Linked DNA regions of Homo sapiens: region 2 is linked to region 1. A link means that fine-mapping ties the variant in region 1 to the expression of a gene that starts in the linked region. Tissue or cell type: whole blood. Region 1 holds a variant in brackets; the other region holds the start of a gene. All regions are shown on one strand. Distances are from middle to middle.

Region 1 (8,180 bases):
GTTTACCTGTTCCTGTTCGTGCTTGTAATGCTCACTTATGTTTTCTCTGTATAACTTGTGATTCCAGGGCTGTTTGTCAACAGTATACAAAAGAATTGTGCCTCTCCCAAGTCCAGTGTGACTTTATCTTCTGGGTGGTTTGATAGTGTTTTTAAAAGTAATATATAATGTGGGGTGAAATGGGAGTAGGGGGGTGGACAGGGGAGAAACGAAAACCACAAAAAGAAAACCCAACTCCTCTCCTCCCCCCAAGCTCAGTTAAATCCCCCACCTCCAACTTTCCCTCCACCAGTGTGCTTGGGATCTTCAATGAACTGTGCTTTTCGCTTTCTTTCTGCATGACTATTGTAACTAGATAGAACATTAAGAGATTTTCAAGATCAAACTTCCATAGCTTCATCCACTGAATTTGAAGGCATCCACCTTTTTCTCCATTTGCTAAAATTTGGTGCAGTTTGAGTTTATGTGAATAGGCTGGCTGTGCCTGTAGAGCTCTTGTGTTTTTAGTGATGACATGAAATACAAAGAACAAGCTATTTCCAGGAATGTGTTCTGTATTTTACATCCCAGTGTACCCTTTATTTTATTATTAACTAATTAACTATGAGATTTTTAAAAAATGGGGCCGCTGATGTGCAATATCAAAGTGAACTTGTGAGTATTTTGTGTGTGTTGATCTCAGTTGTTTCTTCATTGTTGCTGTTTCTGGATCCAGCCATGTGTGCGCTTGTGTGGACCTGAGGCTGCTTTCTGTTCCCAAAGCTTGACCTGTGTACAGAGATAATTCCTTGGCAATGTTGGACATAGAATGCAGGGAGCTACTGAAGGTCTGTCAGGGATTTGTCCATTCTGCTCTTGGCCTCTCCTGAGGCCTCATAATGGGAGACCAAATCAAAAATGTCCCATGTCACTTGAGTGGGTACACTGCCTACAGAACCTTGAGGTTGACTCCTGCTTCAGTTCTCAGCTGTTTACCACAGCCCTCCAGGGTCCAAAGATTGAGGAGCTTTCTCTTTCCTGGGAGGAACTGTCTCAGATTTAGCTTGTGTGTGTTTTGGACAGAGGCTCCACAGCGGTGGCTCTTGAGGAATCCTCACCAGTTTGTTCTCTTCCCTCTGACAAGCAGCACCTGAGCAGATGCTGAGGCAGTTCATTAAACCAGGCCTCAGCTTCAGTGCCTCATCTTGCCATCTCCCGGCCAGGCTGGGAACGGGCACCAAGCAGCCGCCTCTAACAAACACCATGGTCCGTGGAAGTTCATGCCAGCAGCTTGCCTTTGAGAAGAAATGCTGCTGGCTCTATTTTTACATTCCCTTCCACCTCTATACTGTCATGTCACCGTTCTGAACTCCCAGATCTGAGAAGGAACTAGTGTTGGTGGTATGTAACAAGAGTTACGTATCCAGGGGCTTGTGCCTTGGTTTCTCCTTTGATTGCTGGTAAATTCTGAGGCCACAGAGAAATGCATTGAGTGTGAATGTTGTCATCTGTAATCCCTCCCTCAGCTGATAATGGTAGTTGATCTGTTGTAAATATATACATATATGCATATTTGCACTTCCAGATGGGTTGCATAAGAATCAGGTCCTTAAATACCTCCCAATCTGATGAAACGATAGAATAAAGTAACATTTCCCAGAATGGAGGAATACATTATTTTATCGTATATTTTTGTCCAAGCGATGAGCTGACGGTGGTATTGCTTCTCTGCATGTTATCAGTGTGTACATCTGGTGCTTTTCATGTGTCATTTGTGAGCCACAAATGCAAAGTTGCCATTTGAATTCAGTCAGGCTACAGGGTGGTGTCAGTCAAGGTCTTTCAGGTGGGGGAGAAATTGGTTAGGGCTCCCACTGCCAAATGCAAGCAGATAGCATAACCTGACTGTTATGTGCCCTCAGGCAGCATGCTTAGGGACAACTCTGTGGCCTGGGGGACATCTGTGTCACAGTATAGGATTGCCATTCAGGTGTTTTGTACCTATTTCTTTCCTGACGTTGTCCCCTTTTTTTGTACTGATCCAACTGGGAGAACCTCAGCCAATGCTGGAAGTATGATTGAAGTACCTCTCTTTTGTGACTCTTGTACAGCTTAATGTGCAATAAAGGAAAAGTTATATCTGTCTTCAGTGTTAAGTTGTAACGTTTCTGGCTATCCAAGTATCTGCACAAATGGGAAAGCACTCAGGTTTCTGGTGCAAGAGACTGAGCTATTAACCTGTATTACCTTACAGGAGAATGCTAATGCAAATGATGCCAAACTTTGGAAGTGGCAAAAGCTGGTTAATGTGAAATAATCTGCTAATCTATCATCTTCACTAGTTATTTGATTTGAATTTGGAGCTTCTTAAACCTGCAGAATTCCATTGATTTATGTATGTGTTTATTTCTCTGTAACTAACTCTGGTATTATTTGGTTAGATGATAAAGGGTATTCTGTGCCCTATAGTGGGGAACTGAGCGGATAGTCATGGGTGCACAGTGGCATAGACATACAGTTCTGCCTCTCCAGAGGGTGCAGATGTTCTGGTGTTTCTTAAAAACTAAGTGATAATACAACTAGCTGGTGCTGAGTTTCTGTAAGTCCACTCCCTCCAGCAGGCCCGTGGATGTGGACTGTGGGATTGAGGCTGAGAGACTGGACCTCCCAGGGCAGTCGTGCATCATTTCCACTAGTCAGTAGGTGCTAATGGGGATGGCTTTTGATTTCTAAGCGTTGGGACCCTCCTCAGCAAACTCTAGGCAATCTGGTACCACCTTAATGCCTGTCAACTCCCAGAGGAAGGAGGACCTTTTTCCTCTCCAGGCCACCAGATGGTTTAGTGTTTCATGCTGGGAGGAGGGTGTGCTGTTCCTTTTTAGGGGGGCTTTCATTTGCCAAATGGCACCCACAACATCCCCAGGGGAGAGTGGGGTTTGGATGTCTTGAGAATTCTACCACACATGGCTGAGAGGTTCATCCTGCTAGAACCCCTTGAGGATATTACTGAGAGGCAAAACAGTGCCTAGGAAGAATGGATTTCTCCTGGTTGTGGGCATGAGTTAATGCTAAAATGAAGCCCTGGTGGGGCATGGTGGGCCTGGCAATCAGACCCACGCAGGCTTGGAGCAGGACCAAGGGCAGCTCCATAAAACAGCATATGTCAGTGACCATCGAGGTGATCATAAGGTACGGAATACTTTTTGAAGAACTTGCTCAACCCTATTATCTTTGAAACACTACCCCTTAAAAGACAACTAAGACCAGGGCTTACACTTTTTAAAGTTTTATGTTTGGGAAAACCAAGGCCCAGGGAAGTTTGGTGACTTGCTCAGGGAGTCACTGGTAGACTATTTCTGAGATCCAGTGCTCTCTCCACCACACTCTCCTGCATCTGCCATGTGGAACTTGAGACTTCCCAATAAACCCTGGAGCAGGGTGGTCTGTGCCTGAGACACCTCTAGAGAGGAGGGGAGAGGACCCTGCATTCTAGGGCCCTCTGTGAGAGAGTGCGCCTCTGACGGGGCCGCTCGTCCCTGGTTCCTCCTTGTCCTGCTGACTGCTGCTGTGGCTGAGTTGCTCCGTTTCTGAGGAGAAGCACTTAGTGGCTATATACAAGGATAGCTAACCAAGGACCCCCTTTAGGGCCCTTCAGAGACTCCAGCTTCTTGGAATAGAGCTTATCCTTTGGGTAATTAACTAACCACACCCTTTGAGGCATAAATTCTAATAAGGAAACATTTTTATATGGTTAAATTATGAAGTTTTTCTTGTACTGAACCTAGGGGGCCCTGGGCAACCCCAAGGAATGCAGCCCCCAGGCAAGGTGCTGCCTCCACGCCGGCTCCCCCCTGGACCATCACTGCCACCTTCCTC[CTCTTCCTCCTCT/C]TCTTCCTCCTCCTCGGCTCCTCAGCGGCCGGGCGGCCCCACCACCCACGGAGATGCACCCTCCAGCAGCAGCTCCCTGGCAGAGGCCCAGCCACCCCTGGCTGCTCCACCACAGAAGCCCCAGCCTCACCCACAGCTCAAGTAAGAGACAACTCAGCAGCTCCTCCCTCCCCTCCTCCTACCCTTCCTGTGGGCCTTGGGCTCCAGAGCTGCTAGAAATCACCTTCAATCAGGTCTCCTCCTACAGATATTTTGTGATGGGATTTGGTTTTTTTTTGTTAGTTTGTTTTTGGTTTTTGTGTGTGTGTGTGTGTGTGTGTTTGGTTAAAGGAGTGGTTAGGGTTCACTGGAGAAGGGAGGAAAGAGGGAAGTGAAAGTCTAAAGTTTAGCTAGAAATTCAACCCCCTTCCCTTTCTTCCTGGGAAGTGGCACTACGGCAGAGTCACTGTCCCTTCTCTAGTCTTGTACTAGCTTAAGGTTTTGGTTTGTTTATTTTAAACCCTGTCTCCCACTCTTTTTTCCATTCCTTTTCTTTGTGTGTGTTTCTTTCTTTGTAAAAAAAAATTTTTAATCTTTCTGCCTCTGACTCACAGTTCAGAGTATGCAATCAGTAAGGCTGCCCAGAATGAAAAGAGGGAAGTAGTTAAATCCATTTCAACATTTTACCTTCAGCTCTGTCCAAAGGAGGTCAGTTTCTGGTGTGGGCAGCAGAGGAGTTCCCAGGCAGAGACGCTGAGGAACTCCATCCTCTTGGGTTCCCCCACACCCAGCAATCAACCCTAGAAGCCCCTCCACACTGCCCCACTGCACAGACCCCTGCAAGCAGCAGAGCTGTCTTTGGGAGGGACAGCACCTGGATGTGGACGATGGTCAGTTCTGCCCTCTCTCCCACAGAGGCCTCTGATTGCTTGTGCAGTGTCCCCAGCAGACTTCTGTCACCACCTTCAGCACAGACAGCCGTAGCCTTAGGGGGATGGTAAGGGGATGGTAGTGATACACCCCTGCTTCTCAGAGTGAGGTGACGGGCAACAAATGACTCTTCAGGGAGGGAGAAAAGGGGGCTGGAGAATTCTGGAGTTGAAATGAGCCACTAGGAGATCATGTAGTCATTGCAGATGAGAAAAACTTTGCTCAAAGAAAAATTTTTTTTTTTCTCAAAGCCGAGCTACTCCTCTAATTAGTGGCAGAGCCAAGGTTGCGGGGCTCAGGTGTCCAGATGGTCACTTTCTCTGGGTCTTCCAGTCCCGTGTGATGGGAGGGGCATCACCCACTCTTGCTCCCCAGCTCGGGCCAGTGGCACCTCTTGCCTCTTGCCTGCCACATAATGTCCCTTCAGCCCAGCTGTTTCCTGCCTGCTGACTTTTTTTTAATCCCTCCTGCCTTCCCACTAGCCAACTCTAGCCCCCGCGTGAGGGCAGATCCTTGGATTGTCACTGCCTCTGGGCTGAAGCTGTTGAATAGAGCCAACCTCTGATGAGAAGCTGGAGGCTCATCCCCAGTACTCTGCCTGTGCGGGCTGAGGAGTGCCCCCACTCCCAGAGGCCAGCGTGTTGGGTCTCGTTCCCAGCCCTAATGAAAGGCAGGGTGTCTGTTCACAGTCACTGCAGGCAGAGAGAGACTGCTCACAGTTCTGTAGAAGGGAGTTTCTCCTGAGCTGCACCCAGCATTTAAGGGAGGGCTGAGAGTCCCAAGACACCAGGAGAAGAGTTCTGGAGCCAGAAAGCAGCAGGAGTGAGTAGGAGTCAAGAAGGAGAAAAGCTGGGCCGCTGGAGAAGCCAGACCTCATGTCCTCTCCTGGAGTACAGGCTGGGCCTCCCCATGGCCTTGTGCTTCATGGTTTTTCTCTGTGAACCACTAGTCTCTCAAGGGGAGAATAGGCCCCTAAAATGTTGTAGTTTGGATTTTCTCATTAGAAAACTCCCTAAGAAACTTGTAAAGGCCTGATATATATCTCTTTTGCCACTGGACACCCTGAACCCCATAGACCTCATATTAGCGCTCTTCTGAGGAGGGTTACAAGGGTGGTTACTACATCCATTTTAAGAACAGGGAAATTGCCGGGTGCGGTGGCTCACGCCTCTAATCCCAGCACTTTAGGAGGCAGAGGCGGACGGATCATGAGGTCAGGAGTTCAGGACCAGCCTGGCCAAGTGAAACCCCATCTCTACTAAAAATACAAAAATTAGCTGGGCATGGTGGCAACCATCTGTAGTCCCAGCTACTTGGGAGGCTGAGGCAGTAGAATCGCTTGAACCGGGAGGCGGAGGTTGCAGTGAGCAGAGATCGCACCACTGCACTCCAGCCTTTGCGACAGAGATTCTGTCTCAAAAAAAAACAAAACAAAACAAACAAAAAGAGAACAGGGAAATTGAAGTGTTAGAGTTTTGAGCCAAGCCAATATATTCTTTTGGAATCAGAGAAGAGATCAGAATAGAAAGAGCCAAAAGTGCCTAGAGATCTTCATTTTACCAAACTTGACAGATGAGAACCCAAAGAGAGGCACGTGGCTTGCCTCCAGTTAGGAGGGAGTGAGTGGCAAAACGAGACTTTGGCCCAGGTCTTCTCATCTGGCTCCACCAGTTGACAGTTGATAGAGAAGACAATGCCAGCATCACAGGCCCATTGTGACTTCTTTTCATCAGAAAAGTAATGTGAGATTCCTAGGTTAGTTCTTACCAAGTTGGGATCTGTGAAATTTAGCCCTTGGGCATTTCAGATTAAATTAAAGAAGCGGCCTTTGAGTCGCCTCTTCCTCCTCTTTCCCTTCTTTATTTTTTTCCTTCTCCCTTGTTCCCACACTGTCCCCACCCTTTCTATTCTAGTAGCACCAAAGTTGAGGAAGTAGCGTAGGAGTCTCCCAGGGTCTTGGTAGCATGGCCACTTCTGGCATTATCCTCCATCACCTTGGTTTCCCAGGGAGGGAGTGGGGGTTCTAGCTGTGTATCCTCACGTCACCGTCCTTCCCTGCCTTGCTGGGAACACCACCCTCTCACATTCTCTCTGGTTTTTATCTTCAAGCAAGTCGCAGTCCCTGACAAATGCCTTCAGCTTCTCTGAGTCCTCCTTCTTCCGGTCTTCAGCCAATGAGGATGAAGCCAAAGCAGAGACCATCCGGAGCTTGAGGAAGTCCTTTGCCAGCCTCTTTTCAGATTAGCTCTTCAGACACACGGGGCACCCAGCCCAACCGGGAAAGGCATCTAAGACATTCACCAACAACAGTCAGCCAGCTTGGTGGTTATGTCCCATGACCTTGACGTGTGTGGTCCCTTCCTCTGCTCTGTTGTACTAAGTGATGTTGTGCAGCCCAGAAAGGACCATTTGACAGTCTCAGGGCAGGTGCCTACCCAGCAAGGGGTACCTGGCATCAGAGAGGAAAGAGCTGCTTCCCTGTAGTCATGAGAGCTTCCTTCTGAAGTCATCGTTCGCTGTGAGTTTAGTGGCCTTATTGTGACAGTGCCATCATGTCTTATTCTTCCCTGTGAAACCAGGATTAATCGTGGACTCCTGGCAGCTTAACCTAGCTCAGTTGCAGTGCTAAGCATGCCCCGCCCCCATTCAGTGATACCTGTTTGGGAAGTATATACTTCCCCAAAAGTACTCTTGGCCCTAAGTTTTAGGAACTTTCCCCGACCTGGATCCCTTGTCATACCTGTGTTACTGTTTAAAGCACACCCACCCAACTTACAAGATCTTAGGCTGCTGTGGTGGTGAAGCACCTTGAGTCTGCTGATATTCGGGAGAACAAGGATCTGCAGTTTCCCCTTTTCTCCCCTCTGAAGAGTGGTTCTTATGTGCAATCTGCAGTAACCTTGAACTCCAGAGCTGCACTATAGAGGAGAATGCATGCCACTATGACAGCAGTATGCCAAGCTTTGTGTTCATCTCCTAATAAACGTTAAGACCTTTGGTGTAATAAAAGCAGCAGCATTCACCAACATTTGATTCAGCCATGAGGTCTTGACCCCTTGGCCACCCTTTAGGCTGAGAGAGTGTCCATGAGGGGTGTGTGTGTGTGTGTGCTTGAGTGTAGGGAGTGAAAAATCTAGGTGTGTGAAGCTGTTTGTGTCAGTTTGTGTGTGTGACTGCAGGTGTACATGTGTTTGCAAGTGTTTGAGAATGTGTCTGTCCTTTACATACCACTTCTGGGCCTCCTCGCACCTCCCCAGTGAATCTGTCTCCTCCAAGACACCTAGCCTTCCTTCAGCAACTCAGCGTTTCTACCTATATTACGGACTTTGTAACCTTTCAAATAAGCACAGAACCCTTGCTCCCGGAGGAGTCAATTTAGACTCACTTGCCTGGTCTATCATCAA
Region 2 (8,180 bases), 180 kb before region 1:
TCTCTGTGAGCTATCTCAGCTGCACTGTTGCTCAAGGGAAGAGAGAAATCAGGCGATAAAGCATTTAAATTGGTGCTTGATTTTAGCAGGATTCTTTCATCTGCAGTTGCCAGATGCTTAATTGTGTTCAAAATTCAGTGGGAAGATAAAGATTACAAAGGAAGGATCTCAAAGAGTCCTGGGCTTCTAGAACTGGAAGAGACCTCTGAGATTCTCACAGTGAGAATCTCAGTGGCTAAGTCAGACACTGAGGGATGAAGAAAGGTGGGAGAGACCCCCTACACCGATTGCTGTGGGAGAAATGCCTTCTACCTGGAGATGACGGGAAAATGCTGGTTGGTCTTAAGAGGGAGATAGGTAGAAAATTTCATATTTTATAGACATTCCTGAGTCCAAATCCAGTTATCCTTTCATATTCCAGGTAAAAGGTAGGCGACAGAGTAATAGTGCTATGTTCTACCTGTATCGGGAACCCAGATCCACAGGTAAGGATAAGGGAAATATTGTCATTACAGCCCATTTATAATAAGACACGATGCACTGCATGTTTCTGCAGCATGCAAAAACACTTCTTGGCAAGGACTCACTGCAAGCCGGAAGATACTGATTTAAGCAGATGTGATTTACAGTTGTACTAACTAATGAAAACTTCTGATCATACACAACTGATCAATGACCACTTATGCCCAATTATATGAAAACAGTCTGTTCCTCCACAAGAATAATATTCTTATTAAAACCTACCAGAAAACAATGTAATAAATTAATGGAATATTTGATAAACATTTTTAAATGATCTTGTAGGCCTCCATGGTTTCTATGAAGGGCTCTAAAATAACATTTTAGAGAACATTCTGATCTAGCTCCCACAACTGGGTCACTTACTATGTGTTAGAGGCTTTGTAGATCATTCTGAGAAAATCAGAAGACAGAATCCCTCACCTTGAGGGGCTTGCAATCTAAAAAGAGAAGCTGGACAGACACTAGCAACATAAACATATGCATAAGTACAGCCTCTCAGAGCCACCCCTACAAACACTAGAATGCATATGCCAGTGCCATGAAAAGCTCAAGAAAGACAGTGAGAAACAACACAGACAAGGTTTTTGCCTTCAAGGAGGAGATTCAAGAAGTTCAAAGGGATAGCCTTTGCTCTGGCTATCCTTTTTACCTTGGCTGCCTTCTCCATCCACTCTTTCCTGCCTGTCAGAATTCCGCCCATTTTATAAGGCCTGAGCCTTTCTTTCTCTGTGAAAATTCCTGTCCCTGAGATCTCTTCTTCCTCTGGCTCCTTTAACACTCACTGCCTGCTCTACTTTCAGGTCACTCACAGGCTGCTCTGCTATTGCTAGTTATGTGTTCACATGTTTATGAGCTGTCTTCTTAAGAACTTGGGTTTCATTCATCCCTGAATCTCCTTTACCCTCCTGTCCCTAGCATAATGGCTTGCATGTATTAGGCATGAAAACACGTCTGTTAATTGGTTGATTTTAAAAATATATGCATATACTATAAGCTTAACGGTTGGGGAAATTACTTACTGAAATATTATTTTAAAAAACCTATCACCCCCAAAATTGAAGTGACACAGTGTCTGAAATCCCTTCATTAGAGATACATGCCTTTGATGGCCGGACGTGGTGGCTCATGCCTGTAATCCCAGCACTTCGGGAGGCTGAGGCGGGCAGATCACCTGAGGTCGGGAGTTTGAGACCAGCCTGACCAACATGGAGAAACCCCATCTCTACTAAAAATACAAAATTAGCTGGGCATGGTGGTGCATGCATGTAATCCCAGCTACTCAGGAGGCTGAGGCAGGAGAAATGCTTGAACCCGGGAGGCGGAGGCTGTGGTGAGCTGAGATCGTGCCATTGCACTCCAGCCTGGGCAATAAGAGCGAAACTCCATCTCAAAAAAAAAATTTTTTTTTAAGAAGGGCAATAATTAAGTTTATTTAATTATGTTATTAGTGACTTATCAGTTTTATTCTCCAATAAACACAAAAACCGAGTTGGGTAAGATTACAGTTCAATTCTCAAACAACTGAGTCCTTATTACATGCCAGGTCCTGTGTTTGGTGTGAAGCCCAAAGATAACTAAGACATAATCCTGTCCTAGAAAAGCTTACATTCTAGTCACCAGAATATTGTATGATAGTTTCTTTGGGGTCTATGACAAAGCCAAGCACAGGATATGGAACACTTAGCCCGCCCTGGAGGATTGACGAAAGGCTTCCTGGAGGAACCATCAACTTACATACCTTCTCCATGCCTTCTCTGGCTGCCTGCCTGCCTGCCTTCTTCACTTTTCTACTGGTAAACATAGCTGCCTCAAGATCCACCTCAAATGTCACCTCCTCTGAGAGGCCTTCCTAAGTCTCAGAGGCAGAATGAGTCCCTCCCTCCTTAGGCCTCCTAACCCTCTTTGCCCAACTGTATGATAGCATTTCTCACATCTTATGTGGTTCCTGTGTCTATCCTCCCTCCATCCCCCAGCCCACATAGATCATGAACTTGCAATAGACAAGAGCCACTTCCCATTCATTTCAGCCTTTCCAGCTCTTACCACTGTGCCAAGCATGTAGTAGATAGGAAGACCACTGTGTTATTATAGTTGACTGGAGACTTCTCTGATAGCACCGGCTCAGAGCTGGATTGTGTATCTCTAGGCCCTGAGTTGAGTGCCAGCTGGGATACAGGAAGCAAGAACTGCCCACCAACATTAGTGACAAGCCACTCCCTGACTCCATTCAGCCCAGTACATACTTACTGAGAACCAATTGAAAAAAGAATTCAGGCATCACTACTGGAATACCTACTGCTGTGTACCAGATGCTTTACATACATGATCTCATTTACTCCATGTAACAACTCTGGAAAGGGTTACTTATTCCTTTTTATCAGCTAAGGAGAGAGGCTCACAGGGGTTATTGATCCAGGGTCACATATCACCCGGGGTAGTCTGCTGTAAAGCCTATCTGCTGTGTCCTGCTCCATTACAACACAAGGGAAAGTATATCTAATGAGAGATGAAAACTAAAGGTCCAAGAGTCACGCAAGATTTAGAGAGTGCACATGGGAAGGTGGCCATCAGAAATGTCTTCACAGAGGTCAAGGCAACGAATAAAATGGAAAAAACAAGTAGAAAGATCTTGAAGAGATGTCCTTCTTGGTATAGCACTGGATGCATCAATGCATGCTAGGAAAGAAACACGGTGGGGTTGGGGGATCCTTAGATATCCCTCTTGGGGTGGAGACCATGTCTCCAGTCTTCTCTTGGTTTTCTCTCACTGGTCAGTGAGGAGGGGGAGAGAAGTACATACTGTTGTTGTCCCTAGAAGTGCAGGAGTGAAAACACACCCCACCCCTCCTTCCATGACAGAGTAGAGAGGATCTGTTTCTCCCCTTTCCTCTCCCTCGCCTTGGAGTAAGGAGGCTGCCTTCCTCCCTAGAAGAGGTATTTCTTTTTTGTCTCACCATAGGGTGTGTGTGTGTGTGTGTGTGTGTGTGTGTGTGTGTGTGCGCGCGCGCGCGCGCGTGTGTGTGTGTGTGTGTTAGTAACAGCGGATTATTCCCTTCCCCCTCTTCTGGGGGCTGGGGAGATGACATCTTTCTCCCCAGCGTTGGGAAAGGAGGTGGTTCTTTTCCTCCTCACTACAGGGTGTTCGTGCTTGTGTGCGTGTGTGCGCGCGTGATTGGGATGACTCCTTTCGTTCTCACCTCCGCATAGGGAGGCTGACACCTCTTATCCTTCCAAAAGGAGTGGGGTCGGTTTCCTTCGCCTCCATTTCAGCTGGGACACGGCTCTTTTTCTCTCCAACCAAAAAGATGGTGGGGCCTCTGGTTCCTTTTCCTTCCCCTGGGGAGAAGGCCTGGCTCCCACGCCCTCCCCGCATAGTCACGCTCAGGTTGCTGGAGGCCTGGGTCGCCCCCTCCTGCAAGCCCCGAGAGTCGCCAGACGCGCGGCTAGGTGCCCTCCGTGAGCGGGGCGGGGCCGCCTCTGCGGCGCGGGGCGGGGGCTATCTCTGGCCCCGCCCCTGCCCCGCCCGCTCCCTCTCCGCGAGCCTCGCGCCGCGCGGGTTGCCTGGCCCAGACCGCCGCTGCTGTCTGCGGGGTCTGGTGCCGGGGCCTGAGTCTCTGCTGGCTAAGCCGCCGCCTCAGCCGCCTCAGTCGCCTCAATCTCGCCTTCCGCCCTCGCTCTCCCTCCGCGCCACCAGACCCCGTAGCCCCGCGCGCCCCCAGCCCTTTAAGCCAGATGATGAACTTCCTGCGGCGCCGGCTGTCGGACAGCAGCTTCATCGCCAACCTGCCCAACGGCTACATGACCGACCTGCAGCGGCCCGAGCCCCAGCAGCCGCCGCCGCCGCCGCCCCCCGGTCCGGGCGCCGCCTCGGCCTCGGCGGCGCCCCCGACCGCCTCGCCGGGCCCGGAGCGGAGGCCGCCGCCCGCCTCGGCGCCCGCGCCGCAGCCCGCGCCGACGCCGTCGGTGGGCAGCAGCTTCTTCAGCTCGCTGTCCCAAGCCGTGAAGCAGACGGCCGCCTCGGCTGGCCTGGTGGACGCGCCCGCTCCCGCGCCCGCAGCCGCCAGGAAGGCCAAGGTGCTGCTGGTGGTCGACGAGCCGCACGCCGACTGGTAGGTGCCGGGCGCCGCCGCCCTCGGGGGTCGGGGTCCGCCGGCAGCCGCAGGCCAGGAGAGGACGGTCCCAGGTCGCCGAGGAAACGTTTCAGACCAATAAAAAGGAGGGTCCCCGAGGTCCCGCTGGGAGGAGGTGCGGGCTGAGCGCGCGCGCGTTTGCGGGGTGAGGGAGGGCATCCATCAGCCCGGAAAGGCGAACCCAAAGCTAAAATACCCCTCAATTGCCCCAGGTCCCCCAGGTCCCATACAAGAAGGAGCTACTTTATGCAACAGGAAAGGCCCTTAGGAAATAGTTTTTTTGGGGGTAGAGGAGGGGACACACTTGTTAGCTTAGACACATAAAATCTGAAGTGAAATAGTCCCAGGAGGCCGAAGGAACATTTAGGGCCAGTAAAAAAGGTTTAACTTCATGAAGCACGGAGTGAATTTGGAATGGAAATTGGTATTTTGGAGGGAGAAGGTGGTGGTGGGTTTTTTTTAACCAGGACCCATGAAGGCTGATATCAAGTATTGACATCAGGTTGATGAAATCACACATGTAGTGGCCCAGGTGTACACGGGCTTGTTCCCCGGAGCATGGCTGAAGTCTCTTTATGAATAATAAAATTGTTGTATTTTGTGCAGCAGGGAGGGGACGTGTGGAATTTTTTTTTTTTTTTTTTGATTGCTTGTTTTTCTGAAATGTGCGTGGTGGGGGGCGGGGCGTGGAAGTGAATGGTAGCTTTTTCTAGCTGAAAGATGAAGACCTTGGTAAAATATACTGGATCATTAAAGGGGTACAAATAAAAGGAGACCTGCCTTAATGTAGTAGATGGGAAACTTCAATAATTTTTTTTTTCTTCTAAAGAGATAGGTAGCATGTTTCCAACTTAGAATGGTGAAGGCTGCTGCTTGGTAAAAGTACGAATGAGGTCCACTGAAGACAAATTAGTTAAAAGCGGCTCTATTTTATAGTTAACCTAGGGAATGGTGGGATGGTGAAATTGATAGGTGAAGGGCTTGGAGAAATGAAGAGGCCGAGAATCTGGGGGTGCCTTTTCTCCAGGAATGTGAGCAAGGGTTTTGTTTTTTTTTTTTTCTCATAGGGGTTGAGGTTGGAGACTGGACCTGAGTGTTCTTCCCAGGAGGGGTGCACAGAGAGACCACAGAGCTATTTCTCTCCATTTCCTCTTTTGGCTGCTTCACTGCTTTCTCTCTCTAGCATTCTCTCTTTGGGAGACCCAGAGGGAGGGAGTGCTGGCGTGTGGGTGTGGTGGAAATGAGATGCAGATGTGGAGATGCCCTCCTGCTGGCTGCTAATGTCACCATTCTGAATAGTCCTTTGGGTGACTTATGTGGTTGGCCTTTTCAAGAGAGTAGAGTAGAAAATCCGAAAGGACTTTTGCCAGGAAATGACAAAGGCACATGGAAGAGGGTAATGGGGAAAGTGTAATGCATATGATAGTGCCACTGGCAGCCCTCCTTAGAATTACTCTGACTCAGTTCATATCAACAAGTGCTTATTACGGAGGAAGGGAAGGTAACCAAGCTAGTAAAGGTGCTCAGTCAGAGCATCCATTATATGCCAAATGCTGTACTCTCAGCATGATATCTCATTGCATTTTCTTCACAAAACTGAGGCTTAGGAAAGGTAAGTAATATGTTTACAATCATGTAGCCAGCAAGTGGTAGAAGCAGGATTTGAACTTAGGCCTGTTTGACTCCACTGCTTTCATTCCACTGTGTTATATTGCCTCACTATTATTATTAGCAATATTAATAACAAGCTCCCTCTAGGCAGTGTGGGGGCCTTTTAAGAGAACTCACTCAAATTGGGACACAAAGTGGATACATGAAACAGTTAAAAAGAAATCTAGAATTATTGGTTGAGACTAGTGTTTCAGGCAGTCAACAAATGGAGTGGTTAGTGAGAGCCAGAGTTATTGGAGAAAGCTTCACAAAAGATGAATCTTGAAGAAAGGCCAAGAAAAGGAAGAGGAGAAATGAGAATGACATTCGTGCTTTATTTTTCTGTGCAGGAATTTGACCCTTCTGTACCTTGTCCTGATTTCTTATCCTATTAAATGCACTTGTTTTGAGTCTTATTGCCAGTTAGGTATCTATAGATAGGTACTGATACTTATTTGTATGGGTATGATGAAGCTGCTGCAGATTTCTGTTTAGTTATAAATGCTTCTGTAGCTTAAGATTTGAAACTCTCTTTGGATAGTATTCTCTAGGAAGCCTATTTGGCATAAACTAGAGAATTTGCCTTGCCCTGGAGACTAGAAGCCTCTGATGGAAGTCATAGAAGCCACTTTCCCGTGGGCTGACTCCCAACTGTTTTCCTATTTTCTCTGAAGTAATAACATTGATTTATTAAAACTCATAAGCCCAGTTCAAGTCTAGTTCTTGACAACAGTTTTTTGCTCCTGTGTTTCTGTGCTTAATAGCAGTTCCCAGAATTGCTCTTCTAATATGGGCCTAAATTTGTCAAAAAATCTCAGTTAAAAATTGATGAGTGGTTTTATTGAAAAGTCTCTATGAGTTAAGGAGCAGGTGCTTGCCGTGACAAGCGCAGTGACTTACACAGGTGATTTTTGCACTGAAGACTGATTTTAGTAAAATTGTCTCACAGTTTAAGCTACCTAGATAGTATTCAATGAGTGATATCGTATATGCCCTATATTATTTTTCTGGTGCTGGAATAGGAAGTCAGAGTGTAGACTCATTAGAACTTAAGAATATTGGTCCCCTCTGAATTATATAATGCTAAAATAAAAAGAGTCTGAACAAGCATTTAAATAGCAAGAGATGTAAAAGAAGGGCTTAAAATAAGCAGCCTCTCAGAGCATCCTTAATACAACAGCAGTTTCCTTTGAATTTCTGTCATTGTAATTGTGGGCAATTGGAGACCCCACCACTGACCAGGTTGATGGGAAAATTGGAAGATGTTTTTCTTTTGCTGGAAATGTTTTCATTGGTTGTTTGAGATCTTTAGATTAATCGCACACTAAAAGATCGTTGAAAAATTTATCTGTGCCATTAAAAATTGAAATCAAGCTCTTTATATACCTTATTATTTATTATTAGTATTTTGTAAATATTGTCAGAAAATGTCCTCTTTTAAGGTTCATGGCTAAATTTGAAATGCAATTAAGATTGCACTTTAATGATCGTGCTTAAACAAGGAACAGGTGTTTATGTTGTTTCTTCTGTGTGTTATACTCTCACCAGCGAAGAGATACGTTTTCTCTCAGATTCTGTCCTGCCTTTGTTCCGGAGATTCTGACCCCAGTGATCAAGTGAGCTTTTCATCCTGGCATGATGTTTCAGTGTTTGATTCAGTATAGCACAGGTACTCTTGAGTGTCCAGACTGCAGATATAAGGCAACAGATATTTATGAAGCACCTTCTCTGTATAGGGGATATTTACTAAGAAAAATGAGACACAGTATCTGCCATCTAAGAGCTTGCTGTCCAGATAGGTAGATAAGATAAATACTTTTGAAAAAAAATTTACTAAAAAGTAGGGCCTTTGGATCAACAGCATTGGCATCAACCAGG

What was found. PIP is the estimated chance that this variant, and not a neighbour inherited with it, causes the effect.
Region 2: it holds the start of SYN2, and the variant in region 1 is fine-mapped to the expression of SYN2 in whole blood (GTEx, PIP 0.93).

The regions. Positions count from the first base shown.
Region 1 is chr3:12,183,605-12,191,784 of GRCh38, forward strand. SYN2 (synapsin II) reads left to right here. Exons shown (of 13, transcript NM_133625.6): 12 at 3,765-4,008; 13 at 6,886-8,180. The coding sequence ends at 7,021. Among named protein-coding and RNA genes, the nearest start is that of TIMP4, 29 kb to the left of the region's middle. RefSeq lists enhancers at 3,773-3,882, 4,083-4,222. The variant CTCTTCCTCCTCT/C (reference allele first, on the strand shown) is at 3,856.
Region 2 is chr3:12,000,298-12,008,477 of GRCh38, forward strand. SYN2 (synapsin II) reads left to right here and starts at 4,091. Exons shown (of 13, transcript NM_133625.6): 1 at 4,091-4,631. The coding sequence starts at 4,255. RefSeq lists an enhancer at 4,790-5,290.